Homo sapiens: one gene and its partner. The protein of the gene in region 2 interacts with the protein of the main gene of each other region in a pairwise test. Each region holds a gene or a part of one and is shown on either strand. Other genes may lie near its edges.

The links.
Region 1: the proteins of RPIA (region 2) and FOXP2 interact in a two-hybrid assay, tested with the Homo sapiens proteins (2 studies listed by BioGRID).

What each region holds. Positions count from the first base shown.
Region 1 is NC_000007.14:114,409,865-114,417,819, forward strand, and holds the start of FOXP2 (forkhead box protein P2), read left to right. Parts: upstream 1-4,950; 5' UTR 4,951-5,496; intron 5,497-7,955. UniProt on the Homo sapiens protein: Transcriptional repressor that may play a role in the specification and differentiation of lung epithelium. May also play a role in developing neural, gastrointestinal and cardiovascular tissues.
Region 2 is NC_000002.12:88,736,673-88,743,672, reverse strand, and holds part of RPIA (ribose-5-phosphate isomerase), read right to left. Parts: coding exon 6,997-7,000; intron 5,697-6,996; coding exon 5,597-5,696; intron 1-5,596. UniProt on the Homo sapiens protein: Catalyzes the reversible conversion of ribose-5-phosphate to ribulose 5-phosphate and participates in the first step of the non-oxidative branch of the pentose phosphate pathway.

The DNA.
Region 1 (7,955 bases), on a different chromosome or scaffold from region 2:
TTTGGGCTTCTCCTTCTGACACCTCCAGTTTCAGACCTAACTCACCCTAGTGTATTCCATTACTCACTGACTGACTAAGCTCCAATCTATCTGAACCACATGCCTGCCTTGGGATAGAACTCATCATTATGTCTTTAGTTTTGCTTCACTTTTTCTGGAGCACTGTCAAATATATTTCCTCTTAAAAAAATCCTGCCTGTTATTTGGGGGGCAGTTCCAATACTGGGATCTTCGCCATATAGACTTCTTTGTTCTCTCAGCTATTATCTTTCCTAGTTCAGAACACACACCACTAAATGGCGTTGTACTCTCTTCACATATTCCTCATACTCTATATTCTAGGCAGGGTTAGATACATATCTGTAGTACTTGATTGAGAGTTTTCAGGGCAGAGACTAGATCGGATTTTACTATGAATTCTTCTCCTACTTTCCCATGACACCCAACAGAGTACTCTGTACGTAGAAGATATTCTGTAAATAAAGTTTATTAGGGAAACATTGTGGCAGAACAGAAAGAACACAGGCATTTGAGTCAAAAAAGACATAGATATTGTTTGACCCTGAGGAACTTAAAATATGGGAGTCCCACTGTCTTCATCTGTAAAAAAGGTAATATTATCTGCTTTTCAGGCTGGAGGGAAGGATTAGATATGATGCATGTAAACATTCATAATATGCCTGGATGTAGTAGATGCTCAATAAATATTTTCCTTTTTGTTTTATGTAACAAAACTTATTTCTTCTATTGTCTACCATAAAAAGTATGGCAGTGCATGTGAGATTGATCACTGTGTATAGATGAGGAGAGTTGACTTTCAATAAACAGTATGTGTTTCCTTGAGAAAAAATTACCACCGCCTTTGGAAAAGATGTCTTGGATATGTTATAGCTATACACAGGTAGTTTCCGAACTTGCATCTCTCAACTATTCTTTCTCTGAAATACCCCTCTCAATAATACTGTTGGAGTGTAGGCAGTAGAAAATAGTAGATGAAGGTGGCAGTAGCCAAAAAAAAAAAGAAAAGACTTGTCACTTTCATCTATTAAGTATTAGATTTATTTATTCATTTAGGCAACAAATATTTCAAGACTTTATATGTAGGTTATGCTAGTAGATAGAGTATCTAACATAAAACATTGCACTCTCAGCGAACTTAGTGTTTGGGACAGGAAGATAAAATGCATACATAAATGGCAATGGGAAAAAAGACACATGAGTAAGGTATTAAGATTGGGATTCAGTGCAACTCTGGAGCCAAACTTATGTGGTGGCCACAGAAGAACACTGTGTTTTGAAACCTCACATCGCCAAAGGTATACCATATTCTTTATCTGGCTTTCGATTTTGGATTACTGTAATGGTATGTGAATGTGCTTAGACTAATAGAAAGGAAATTGGGATTAGCCCCAAGCCTGTGTTATGTATTAAAATGCTGATTAAAATAAATAGAAATGAAATTTTTCCCACTCAAGTTTCTGACAACAAATACACCTGTAACTCAAATCAGACACACATTTGAAAAAGCACAGAATTCCCCTGTAGTTTATATTCATTTTTATGTGAGATTAAATAGAAGGTAAGCATAACGCTCAAAATATGGAGACTTGACCATTTTTGAATAAAGGAATTTCACAGTACTGCTGTAAAACAAAGCAGGCAGTTCTTCCATGTTTCTGTTTTGTTAAAATATGTATTTCATCTTTTATCTGTTTGAAATGGTGGCTGCAATTTAGTAAATGCCACCGATTTAGTTTAGATTTTATTGTTACAATGTTACAGTTTTGATAGCACTGGGCATTTTTTCCTGTTAGTTTGTTCTGCTGCTTTCAAGATTGGTATTTAATCAGTGTCCTAGCTCATTCGATGTGTCTTGCTTATAGATCCCTCTGCACTAGAGAGAAGAACCAAGTCTTCTCAAAGCTGACAGTTGTCCAGGGGATTTACAACTGATCATATCCAGTGTGGGGGAAATTTGACCTTTCATACATTCTTTTCCATAACTATTTTGGGGGAAAACAAGATTAGTTTTCATGGAGCCAGTGCATGGCACATAGTAGGTATTCAATGTGTTTTTGAAATAGATTTTAATACAGCAAAATGTTTGCTATGTTATGCCTTGAAATGTGCTTGTTTTGAACAAACTCAGGTGTCATAGTACAAAATTACCAGTGTTATAGTTCAGTGGAATTGCTAATAGGTCATCTCATGTTTAAGAAATTAAAAAATATTTTTAAAGATTTGCTATTGGAAGAAATCATAATAAGGGCATAGAAAGAAAACACCACAGTCTGGTTAGCAATCTATTTTTAAAATTACTATGATTATTTTGGAAGATATAAGTTAAAATTTTTTTACTTAGTGGCATCTTCCTGATCACGTACCTGCCATAGGGTTATAAAATGAAAGGAGTTTTACTATGTAATGTAATGTAGTCATAGTCTTTTATGTTAAGCAAAATTTGATTGTGAAAACTAATATGCAGAGTGTAACATTTTCTTTAATAACCTGGAGTTATTTCCAGGTGATATCGAAGAGTAGTGTGCTGATAGTAAAGAATGTGGGACTCTTCAGGAACAAATGACTTGACAAAATGGTTATACACTTCTTCCTAATACATTTGTGTGTGTGTGAGATTGTTTGTGTTTATTGGGAGGTATTTGCATTAGTTAATTATTTCTTTTCCTAGTTTTTGTCACCTTTATATGTGCTTAGTGAAGCTTGCTATAAATTATTTAGGCCTGAACTGAAGGTTAATGTCATTGTAACCAGCCAAACTTGACGTACCCCGATGCAGCTTTGTGCGGGAGGCACCTATGGCTTGATAGCTGTGTGAAACTGTTGCCTACAGAGATGGGCTCTTGACACTGTCTGCCAGCCTGAGGCTGTCCGCTTTGTGTCTGCTTTAATTGAAAATTAATAGTTAGGGGGTTGCTATGGAAATGATACCATTGCTTGCAGACAGCAAACCCAGCTTTTTGCAAAGAGACACTAGTGGTATTGTTTGTCCTTGTTGACCTCAGAAGTTCAAAAGCCTGGAGGAGGAAAGGAGATGCAAATATTTTACTTAAAAAAATGAATTTACATATTTATAACAATATTTTTGAATGTCAGAGGTATCAATTTTTTTAACTTTTGTTGGTAAAAATGAGTGTAAGCTTTTAAATTTTATGTTAATTGCTACTACACTGCTTTCTAGGTTGATAAGGCACTATTGCTGAAGAGCATTATGTTATCATTTTAGTGAATGTAAACAGATTTGTGTGAAAATGTTATTTGACTGATGTGATAATGGAAACTATCCTTTATTTCCTCTGGAGTACATAAAGTCATTTGTGTCATTGTATACATTATTCACAGTTTCTTTGAAATGTGGAAGCCCTGTAAACTGTGAAGAGTTGGGAGAAAAAATTTTTAAATGAACAAAGCAGACTTAAAAAATATATTCCTGATACTTGAATATTCGCAGTTGTTTAATTCCCTTAAAATATAAGTTACTATTGCTCATATAATTTCATTTGCTTTGTTCACAATCTGATAAAAAAATGTTAAAAATAAATGTTTACAGGTACTTGCCTATTGCATGAGTTTCCTGTGTTTAAATTTTGGTTTAAAAAAAAACCAATATAAACATACTTTTAATGAGTGAATTATTTAACTATAAAATGAAAAAAATTGCTAACAGAATATTAAACGGTTTTGTATCACAGAGCTAAAGAATAAGTGCTTTCAGTTCCTTTCAGGGGAGGTGGAGAAATAGTGCAGCCTCAGGGGTTGAAGGTGAAATGTGAAATTTGCTGTAATTACTTACCCAAAATGTCTGTATTAAAGGCTATTAGAAGCAGTTATTTTAAGTACTTCTTTATACATCTTTCCCTCTTCTGTTTAGTATTTAAATGTGCAACAAAAGTAGTGGCAGATGTTACTCATCTGAAGAAACTAAAACAAGATAAGTCAGTGGCAGGAGTGGTGGCCGGTTAAAGATCTCTTCGAAGTGCTTTGTTCAGTAACTGTTGTTTTGTCTCACATTAAGTTGTAGGTGGGGTGCTGTTAAAGCTTGTCCACTCACGATGGTGTTCAGCTGAGACCTGTGAGTTCAAGTTGTCTTGCCCAGAGTTAAAGGCCATAAAACTAAGACAGTGTCGTTCCTGTCTTGGGTGTAACTCCTAAAAAACTAGTCAGTTCTTGCAATAGGAGGAAAATTATTGCAAATAAACCTTTGATTTACCAGCTTCAGTAAGTTGTTCATTCTGTCTCTGTAGCTGTAGTTTTTACCTTAACAGTTTGAGGCTACCATTTCTCTTCCTTTCATGCTTATGGGGTCCACACAAACCCTGCTAGGCTACCTACAGTATAAAATCTTAAAACTCCATGTGGTGTTGTGAGCTGGTAGCAGATGGACTTTCTTTTGCATCTGCTGTGTACAGACTTGGCTTTGTACTCTTTTCCTGGGGGAGAGAAAGTCTTTCTTCTCTGCTAGTTGATTCCTGTTTTTGTGAAACAGCTAAGAAAACATCTGTGGCAGGCAGAAAAATTGACAAAGGATTGACAAACACCATTAGCTGAAAATTTTCCATTTCATTGCAACTATGCATTGTTTACTTTACTGTAAATATCTTAATACATCATCCTCTGAATATGCTGGCAGAGAAGCTGGAGAACTGTGATTTCAATTAAGGTTAGTAATTGATGGTATCTAGTGTTCAAAGGCTGAAGCTTGATTAACATCTGCTTGGACAAATTGTCATTGTGAAGTGGTTTTGATGTGCATTGAAGATTATTTCTTTCTGGCTTATCTGATGTTGTGGCTGTGAAATGCTTGTCTTGGGTTTGCTTATTTTTGTAAACTACTTCCTTTGGCTGTAAATTGCAGAGCACTGGAGCTTTACCAAAAGTGCAGTGTATAATGGTAAGCTTGTCCTAATAAGGGAAGCAAGAAGTGTATTTATCACAGACATGAAAGCTAACCGAGGACTTGAGAGACTCAAACTGGTGCTTTTGTCTCTCTCTCTCTGTCTTTCTCTCTCTCACACACACACTCACACACTCACACACATGCACACACACACATACACACACACAAAAATGAAGCACTTACTTTAGAAAGATTATGGTAAGCATGCTGGCTCAGTCTTGAACCTTTGTCACCCCTCACGTTGCACACCAAAGACATACCCTAGTGATTAAATGCTGATTTTGTGTACGATTGTCCACGGACGCCAAAACAATCACAGAGCTGCTTGATTTGTTTTAATTACCAGCACAAAATGCCATCAGTCTGGGACGTGATCGGGCAGAGGTGTACTCACAGTAGTGTAAATACTGCTGTAAATAGTTGTCTGATGGTGGCTTTGACAGTGAGCTAGCTTCTGAGTTTTCCCTTCTTTTTATACTGTTTTCTGTGCTGGCTTTTTTGAATCTTCCTAATTTTTCATCTCTTTAACAAACTCCTATGAAGTTGAAACCGGGAAGTTTGCTCTAACATTTCCAGAGAAGGTACGTTACTTTTTGCTAAGAGAATATCTGTAAGAGTTTAGAGAGGGGTGGGATTTTACGATTGCTTTACTGGTAGATTTGGCAATTGCTTTACTTTTTTTTTTTTCTGAGACTGTAGCTCATTGAAATGAACTAGAGCATTGTATCTGTTTGCGAGGGAAAAGCCGGGAGACCAGACACAGGAACTGTTTTTGATCTGTCAGTAGCGTAATGTAGATTTAAGCTATCACTAGTAAAGACAGCAAATAAAGAAGGCCTCTTTTGTATTAAAAAAAAATCTGCAAGATCTTGAGAAGAATAAAGACAGGGTTCCTGCTTTCATGGTTTGATAATAACCATGTCATCTTGCTTTTAGTAAATGCCCCAGTATGTGTCAGGGCGCAAGTTTTTGAAAAGGGAGTTTGACCACACGTTTGGGTGCCTCTCTGTGCCGTGCTGTGTAGAGCAGATGTTTATTTTGTGCTAAAGGGGAAACTCTTTTTGCTAAGCTTGTACAAACATGAAAGGAGTCAGGGCTCAGATGATCTTTGTAGTTTTATATGCATGTTCATGATTTTATTAAAAATTGGTTGGTGGGTCTTTTTCAAATCACTGATTGTGAAGAAATATATATATTTCCAGGAATACACATTGTGAATTGATGAGTAATTTTTAGAAACTGCATTATATTTCTTCAAATAGGTGTGATAGTTTAATACTCGTGTCAGTTAAAAAGGTAGCTTGGCTGGGCTATAAATTACCATTTCTGCACTTTTCATTCTGTCTGCTTCAAAAAAGCGTCTCAGAACCTGGGATCCTATTGGGCCCATCATAGGGCTACAGTAATTGCCTGATGACAACTGAAAATGATAGAATAATTGTCAAGAGAGACATTTTTAATGGGCAAGGTGATTTAAGTATGCATGAACAAGCTATGAGGGAAGATGAGCTTGTTTATGATGCAAGCCAGTATAAACACAGTCGGAGGATGACACAGATAGCTGCACTTTTCCCAGTGACATGAGCAAGTTCTTACTGCAACACCAACAGCTTTTTCCTCTGACCAGTTTGACATTCTTCACCTTCAGGTAATAACGCCTAAATTTCATCCATGTATTTTCACTTTACTGTAGCCTAAGTGACAGGTTTTTGTTTACTAGCCTCCGCGACCAAAAAAAAAAAAAAAAAAAGCACTCTATTTAATGTGTGCTTAGAATAGATCTTGAATCACTTTCACCGTCAATAGTGTGTGTAATACAAAACTTTCATTCTTATTTTCGATTGTTCCTTATCTTTGAACTGTTCTGACTTTAAATCTGATTATCTATAGTTGATTCATAATGCCCTTTTAAAGGCATATTTATTTGTCTTTACAGTCAGCCCTTCTGCTGTACAAGTTTGGAAACAAAGTATACTTGAGAATATGTGGAGAGGTTTAATGATTAGCCTGTTGGTTTTCACGGAAAGCAGAGTCCTATACCTAACAGAGATTACGGTATTGAAGGGTTACAGGTATCTGTTTAGAAATATGGTGCTCTATTAGAAAACAACTTGTTTGACTTTTTTTTTTAAACCCATGTAAAATTTCACAGAATATGCTCACGTTTTATTTTAAAGATCACTAAAATTATATGCATTGAAATACTAATAATCTTTGTAAAAGGTGGATAGATAATTTGTTTACTTTATTATTCATGAAGGCAAGTAAGGCATGGTATTCTGCTATTGTGGGCATATTATTAACATTTCATAGGGATTTGTGCTGGAATGTGGAATGCTGCTTCTTCATAATTTAATACTCCTATGCATAATGAGGTTTGTGATTAGTTGATAGAGAGAATTGGCCCAACTCCATTCTGAAAGCAGATAATTTACATTGTTCTCTAGAGTCTAGAATCTAATAGGTTCTTTAGTGCAATAAAATTAAATGCTACATGTTTTAAATTTCAGCATACAAATCCCCCTGGCAATTTTCTGTTTTTAATTTTTGCCTTTTGTTTCCTCTAAAACAATGAATTTTAAAAATTGTTTCTAGAACATATATTTACCTAGCTCTTTTATTTAGTATGTACAAGTCAATTAGCACTGTTCATTAGCAGAATTGGGTATTTGTTTTAAAGTTTAACCAATCACTTTGAAATGCTAATTATGATGTAATTTAATTGCAAGTCCTGTAATGATGATGCTGATATTATCGACATAAATGATGCAGTTAAGCAGTGGAATCTCATTTGCATATGCTTAAAGCAAGTTGAATTGGGCTGTTTCAATATCACTTTGCTTTAATTTTCCACCTCTGTTCACACCAGCCCTTTGGGTTTTTAAAGCTGTGGTTTCCTATTGATGATCAGTGCTTTCATCTTTATTTTAATGACAAAGGGGCAACAACTGACACTGGAACTGTAAAAATGAAAAGCAAATAATTACTTCTATTAAATATACGAACTATGAAACCTTTTTTGGTAATGATCATTCTTTAG
Region 2 (7,000 bases):
AAAAGTCCAGAACCAAATGGATTCACAGCTGAATTCTATCAGACATTCAAAGAATTGGTAGCAATCCTACTGAAACTATTCCAAAAGATGGGAAAAAAAGGGAATCCTCTCTAAATCATTCTATGAAGCCAGTATTACCCTAATACCAAAACCAGGAAAGATCATAACAAAAAAAGAAAACTACAGACCAATATCCCTGATGAACATAAATGCAAAAATACTCAACAAAATACTAGCTAGCCAAATCCAACAGCATATCAAAAAGATAATACACCATGATCGAGTGCGTTTCATACCAGGGATGCAGGGATGGTTTAACATATGCAAGTCAACAAATGTGACACACCACATAAACAATCTAAAACAAAAATCATACGATCATCTCAATAGATGCAGAAAAAGCATCTATCAAAATCCAGCATTGCTTTATTATTAAAACCCTCAGCAAAATCAACATAGAAGGGACATACCTAAAGGTAATAAAAGCCACCTATGACAAACCTACAGCCAGTATTATACTGAAAGGGGAAAAGTTGAAAGCATTCCCCCTGAGAACTGGAACAAGACAAGGATACCCCGTTTCACATACCCAGTATCCAACATACTATTGAAGCCCTAGCCAGAGCAATCAGACAAGACAAAGGGCATCCAAATCAGTAAAGAGGAAGTCAAACGGTTGCTGTTCACTAATAATATGATCATATACCTAGAAAACCCTCAGGACTCATCCAAAAAGCTCTTAGATCTGATAAATGAATTCCGTAAAGTTTCAGGATACAAAAATCAATGTGCACAAATCAGTGGCACTGCTATACACCAACAGCAACCATGTAGAGAATCAAATCAAGAACTCAACCCCTTTTATGACAACTGCAAAAAAAATAAAATACTTAGGAGTATACCCAACCAAGGAGGTGAAAGATCTCTACAAGGAAAACTACAAAATACTGCTGAAAAAAACCACAGACAACACAAATGGGACACATCCCATGCTCATGGATGGGTAGAATCAGTATTGTGAAAATGACCATATACTGCCAAACGCATTCTACAAATGCAATGCCATTCCCATCGAAATACCGCCATCATTCTTCACAGAACTAGAAAAAAAATCCTAAAATTCATATGGAAAAGCAAAGAGCCCACATAGCCAAAGCAAGACTAAGCAAAAAGAACAAATCTGGCAGCAGTACATTACCTGACTTCAAACTACACTATAAGGTCATGGTCACCAAACAGCATGGTACTGGTATAAAAACAGGCATATAGACCAATGGAATAGAATAGAGAAGCCAGAAATAAAGCCAAATACTTACAGCCAACTGATCTTCAACAAAGCAAACAAAAATATCAAGGGGGAAAGGACACCCTATTCAACAAATGGTGCTGGGATAACTGACAAGCCACATATAGAAGAATGAAACTGGATTCTCATCTCTTATACAAAAAATCAAATCAAGATGGATCAAAGACTTAAATTGAAGACTTGAAACTATAAAAACTCTAGAGGACAACACTGAAAAATCCCTTCTAGACACTGGCTTAGGCAAAGATTTCATGACGAAGAACCCAAAAGCAAATGGAACAAAAACAAAGATAAGTAGGTGGAACTTAATTAAAATAGAGAGCTTCTGCACAACAAAAGGAACAGTCAGCAGAGTAAACAGTCAACCCACAGAGTGGGAGAAAATCTCCACAATCTATACAACTGAAAAAGGACTAATATCTAGAATATATAAGGAACTCAAATTAGCAAGAAAAAAAATCCCATCAAAAAGTGGGCCAAGGACATGAATAGACAATTCTCAAAAGAAGATATACAAATGGCCAACAAACATATGAAAAAATGCTCAACATCACTAATGATCAGGGAAATGCAAATCAAAACCACAATGCAATACCACCTTACTCCCGCAAGAATAAAAAAATAATAGATGTTGGCATGGATGCAGTGAAAAGGGAATACTTTCACACTGCTGGTGGGAATGTAAACTAGTACAACCACTGTGGAAAACAGTGTGAAGATTCCTTAAAAAACTCAAAAGTAGAACTACCATTTATTTGATCCAGCAAAACCACTACTGGGTATCTACCCAGAGGAAAAGAAGTCATTATATGAAAAGGACATTTGTACACACATGTTGATAGCAAAACAACTTGCAATTTCAACAATATGGAACCAGCCTAAATGCCTATCAACCAATGAGTGGATAAAGAAAATGTGATATATATACACATACACACACACACCATGGAATACTACTCAGCCATAAAAAGGAATGAAATAATGGCATTCACAGCAACCTGGATGGAGTTGGAGACCATAATTCTAAGTGAAGTAACTCAGAGATGGAAACCCAAACATCGTATGTTCTCACTTATAACTGGGAGCTAAGCTATGAGGACGCAAAGGTGTAAGAATGATACAACAGACTCTGGGGACTCAGGGGAAAGGGTGAGAGTGGGACAAGGGAGAAAAGACTATGCATTGGGTACAGTGTACGCTGCTTGGGTAATGGGTGCAACAAAATCTCAGAAATCACCACTCAAGAACTTATCCATGTAGCCAAACATCACCTGTTTCCCAACAACTATTGAAATAATTTTAAAAATTAAAAAAAAACTCCCAAAGACAGCTCCCAATAAACAAATGAAACGGAGTAGTGATCGAGTGACGAAAAGCCAACAGGCAGAGCAAAGAGTTGCTGAACACAAATAAAGGTCCCTGGCACCAAACTGTGCCTATGCAACTGGATCCTTCCAAAGATGAGCAAAGTAGCCACTCAAGACCCGTTTTCAAAATGTCTGCAATATAAGGAGAAAGCATCCACTGATCCAAAAAACAGTTAAATCAGGTTCAGAAAAGGCTTTAAAGAAAGAGCAGAGATGAATGGGCAGCAGTCTAAGGTAAGACTTTAGAGCAACTTCTCTTTCAATTACTGAGATGCTGGGTGTGACTGACCTCCCCCAACTCCCCGATAAAATATAGTGGAAAGAGCAGAGGATGCTAAATGTGAACCTAGGGGAAAGAACTCCAGTAGCCCTGGCCCTTCAATTCAGTCACTCTGCTCTGGGTGGAACACAACAAAACATCAAAGGGAGTTGTTTTCTAAGCGTCCTCACATACTGTGTACGAATGCACATGGTAACAGAGATAAACAGGGAAACTCGCCCTACTTCTATTCTCCTGATACTGGTCCAGCCGTGAATCTAATGGACTCAATCAGGAAAAGAAAAAATGAGAAAAGATACAGCAAACCACTCTGATTGTCCTGTAGATATCACATTATATGATTTAATAGCTAGCCTCTTTTATCATTTTCCTCACTTTAAGTTCCTAACAAAACTCTGAACGTCTTTAGGACGCAGCTTCTACATACTTTTTTTTGAAGAATCACATATGAGGGAAATTTCCTTACAAAGGACATTTCAGAACCTTAAGCAGCCAAGGTCTAACCAGGAGCAAGAGTGACACCTAGTGGGCACTGCAAGAACTCCACCTATACGGCAGCCACATTGGTGAGCCCTTTCCTCCTGGGGCCCTGGGTTTGTTTGCATTATCACCAAGGGCAAGTTCTCCCATTTTACTAACAGTGATTTGCAAATCTTCTCTTCCTCCTACCTTCTTGGCTGTTTAGTTCTTCCACTAAAGAGGGAACACTAACCAAGAAAATGAGTATAAGCCAACTCATGTTTTTGACTTAACGTGGTAAAAGACTATCAATAACAAACTAAACTAAAATAACAAACTAAAGTAGAATTGGGGCCAGGCACAGCGGTTCACACCTGTGATCCTGGCACTTTGGGAGGCCAAGGGAGACTTTGAGCCCAGTTCAAGACCAGCCTGGACAACATCGTGAAACCCCGTTTCTATAAAAAATTCAAAACTTAGCCGGTCCTGGTGGTGTGTGTCTGCAGTCCCATCTACTGGGGACGCTGAAATGGGAGAACTGTTTAAGCCCAGGAGGTCAATGCTGCAGTAAACCATGATCACACCACTACACTCCACTCTGGGTGACAGAGCGAGACCCTATCTCAAAAAATTAATAAATAAAGTAGAACTGGAAGAACTAGCTTTTCATTACACAGCTTATATTCACACTATTTTAAATCCCAACTAGCACAGGTGTATCTTAGAATCTTAGTATATTTAATTAAAAATAACAATAGTACCTTTCTTTCAAGGGATTTATTCATTCAACAAACACTTTCCCTTCTGCAATGGGCACGGTTTTAACTCATTTAATCCACCCAACAACCTTATAAGGTAGGCACTAGAATTAACTAGCCCCTTCTACATAGGAAGAAACTCGGGCACAGAGATGTTAACTAACTGCTAAAAGGTAACACGCCAGAGCACAGCTGGGTTAGGATCCTTATCCAGAATAGTCTGCTCCATTAAACTGGCCTGAAAGGTCCTGTCAGCCAGTTCTGGCCCAAGAATACTCCATGATAGGGAATATTCCGTTAGCCTCTTAGTCTCGCAATATCCTAAGAAGCTGATACCTCTCAAGACTGCCTCCTCCTTTTAATCCCCCTGTACGAGCCCTTGATACCTCCTCTAGCCTGGACCAGGACTCCAGCCTCAACCAGGACTCCAGCCTCATAACTCATCTCTACACTGCCCACCCATCCTTCACGCAGGGCCATCCTGGCTCTTATTCCATCATTCCCTGGCACAGCTGCATTAGAAGCTCCCCAAGGCTCTAAATGTTCATTTCACACAGCCTCTCCTCGCCTGGTGCTTCAGCAAGTAAGCATTAAACATTCAGGGTCTAGTGGCAGACAACTTAGGGTGCCCATCTTGGTGCTGTCTTTGGGCAAATGGCTTAACCTTTCTCAGCCAGTGCCCTCCTCTGTAACTACCTCATCAAAGTGGGAATCAAAGGAAATATTTTTAGACGTTTAGCACCGTGTTTAACTTATGTTATGCCAAGGCATGGATGAAAAACCACCTCTACACCATAGAACATCCTCACATTCTCCCAAAAAGAAACTTTTTGTGCACTCTAGACTCTTGGTATTCCTCTAGTAGAATTGAGCACATTCTATCTTATTTGTAGGCATGGCTTCTACACACACACACAGATTTCCCCAGGTTTACATCAATTCTCCTTGAGGACAGATTACAAGTCCTCCAGATCGAAGTATCCCCTGTAACACACAGCACAACATCTTGCCTTTGGCATGCATCCAATGAATGTGGATTAACTGAGTCATTTTCCCCGCTACTTAAGAAGAGAACCCACAAAAAAAGGCTGTAGTCCAGCTCCTGGAAGGAAAGGTTCTACCCAGAGACGATGGCCTTATTTCAAGGCAAGTCCCCTCTGAACTTCCATCAGCTTCAGGACTATCTTAACTCAAACAGGCTGTGAAATGCACAAGCAACAAAGCTGCTAGGTAAGCAACAATTGTTGGGGGAAGGGAATACGGCAAAGGAGGTGAAGTTAAAAACCCAAACATGGTATAAAGGGAATTCTTCTTTCCAACCAAGCCTTACAAAGCCCATGTCCATTGTGCCTTCTGTGGCCAGATGTAGGGGCCAGTTATGAAGGCCATGGGTGTGTATATGACTGGTGAACACCACTCATGTTACCTGGGATCATTTTGATAGCTGTATTCACTTCACTCCATTTGTGTACCCGGTCAAACTTCCAGTCCAAGATAAAATTCCCATTATCTGTCACCACAGGACCCTAGAAGATAATTTTCCACAGTGACCAAGGATGCAGATACAGGTAGGCAGAGAAGGACAGGAAAGTAGAGGGGATAACCAAAGACAAGTATGCATTTTAACCTGCTCCCACCTTATGCTTTCTAGGTGTGCTGTGAAGTGGTAATAAGCAGGAGCTTTGAAATCAGAAAGACTTAGATTGTAGTCTTTTTTTTTTTTTGAGAGAGAGAGAGAGGATACAAGCCTCTTAACAAATGTATCAAGCTATTTTTACTCACATGAGCTCCCACTATGACTATGTGACCATGTCACAATTATCACCACATTCCTATCTGATTTCTGGTTCATTGTTCTTACTTCCTTTAGTCCAAAATTCATTGTTCTTATCTGCTTCCTTAAGTTACTACTTGGCTAATAAGAAAAAGGGCAAGAAACAGAATCCAAAACACAATAAGAACACTAGCAGCAATGTGGCTTTCAAATAAGAACTCTGACAGGGTCAAGGTTGAACGACTTCTCCATTTTGTGCTACATTTCTTTCATGTGCCGACAATCTGAACGTCAGTCAGAGCACTGTACAACCACTAGGAACAGAACTACGGTTTTTTTTTAAAAGTCACAGAAACAGTGGGGACAAAATATATCAAAATAAAAATGTATCAGGGTAGGGTGACAGATCTTTTCGATATCCTCCAAAATGTTTACGTAGTTACATATGTAACTGTGGTTAGCTTCTGGATTGCTGTCTTTGCTTATTTGTTTACTTAAGTATAAAAAGAGGGAAAAGTTATGCGCAATCCACTTTAGAAGCTAAAGAGAAACACGAAAAATTTGGACCATCTGGAGAGTATTCCTTGGGAAGAGTTCACACACCCCAAGAAATTCTACTTCTTGTCACATTTAACCACAGAATGAGAGGAAAGAAGAGGGAGAAAAGAAGTTACACCATGGAACCTAAAAAACTTTCTGTTCCAAGCAGTTCCCAAAGCCAGGGTTTCACAGCTGCCAATCAGGGTGTTCCAGGCCTCAGGCACAAAGGTCAGATCACCTGTGGGATGTCAGAACCTGAGGCACAGAGAAAGAATCATTCCCCTATCTGTACAAAGGAGATGCACTGTATTAAGTGTGGTCTTGTCTACACGAGTTTGAATGCAGAAACTAACAGGCCAATTCTCCGAAAATAAACAAATACATCAATTAAAAATAAATAAAAGCCAATTGCCTGGTGGAAGCACACATGACCTAACTGCAACAGAAGGGAGGACACCACACTGAAAACCTGAGTGCACCCAGCACACCCCCGGCCCAACCAGGCCACTCACAGCC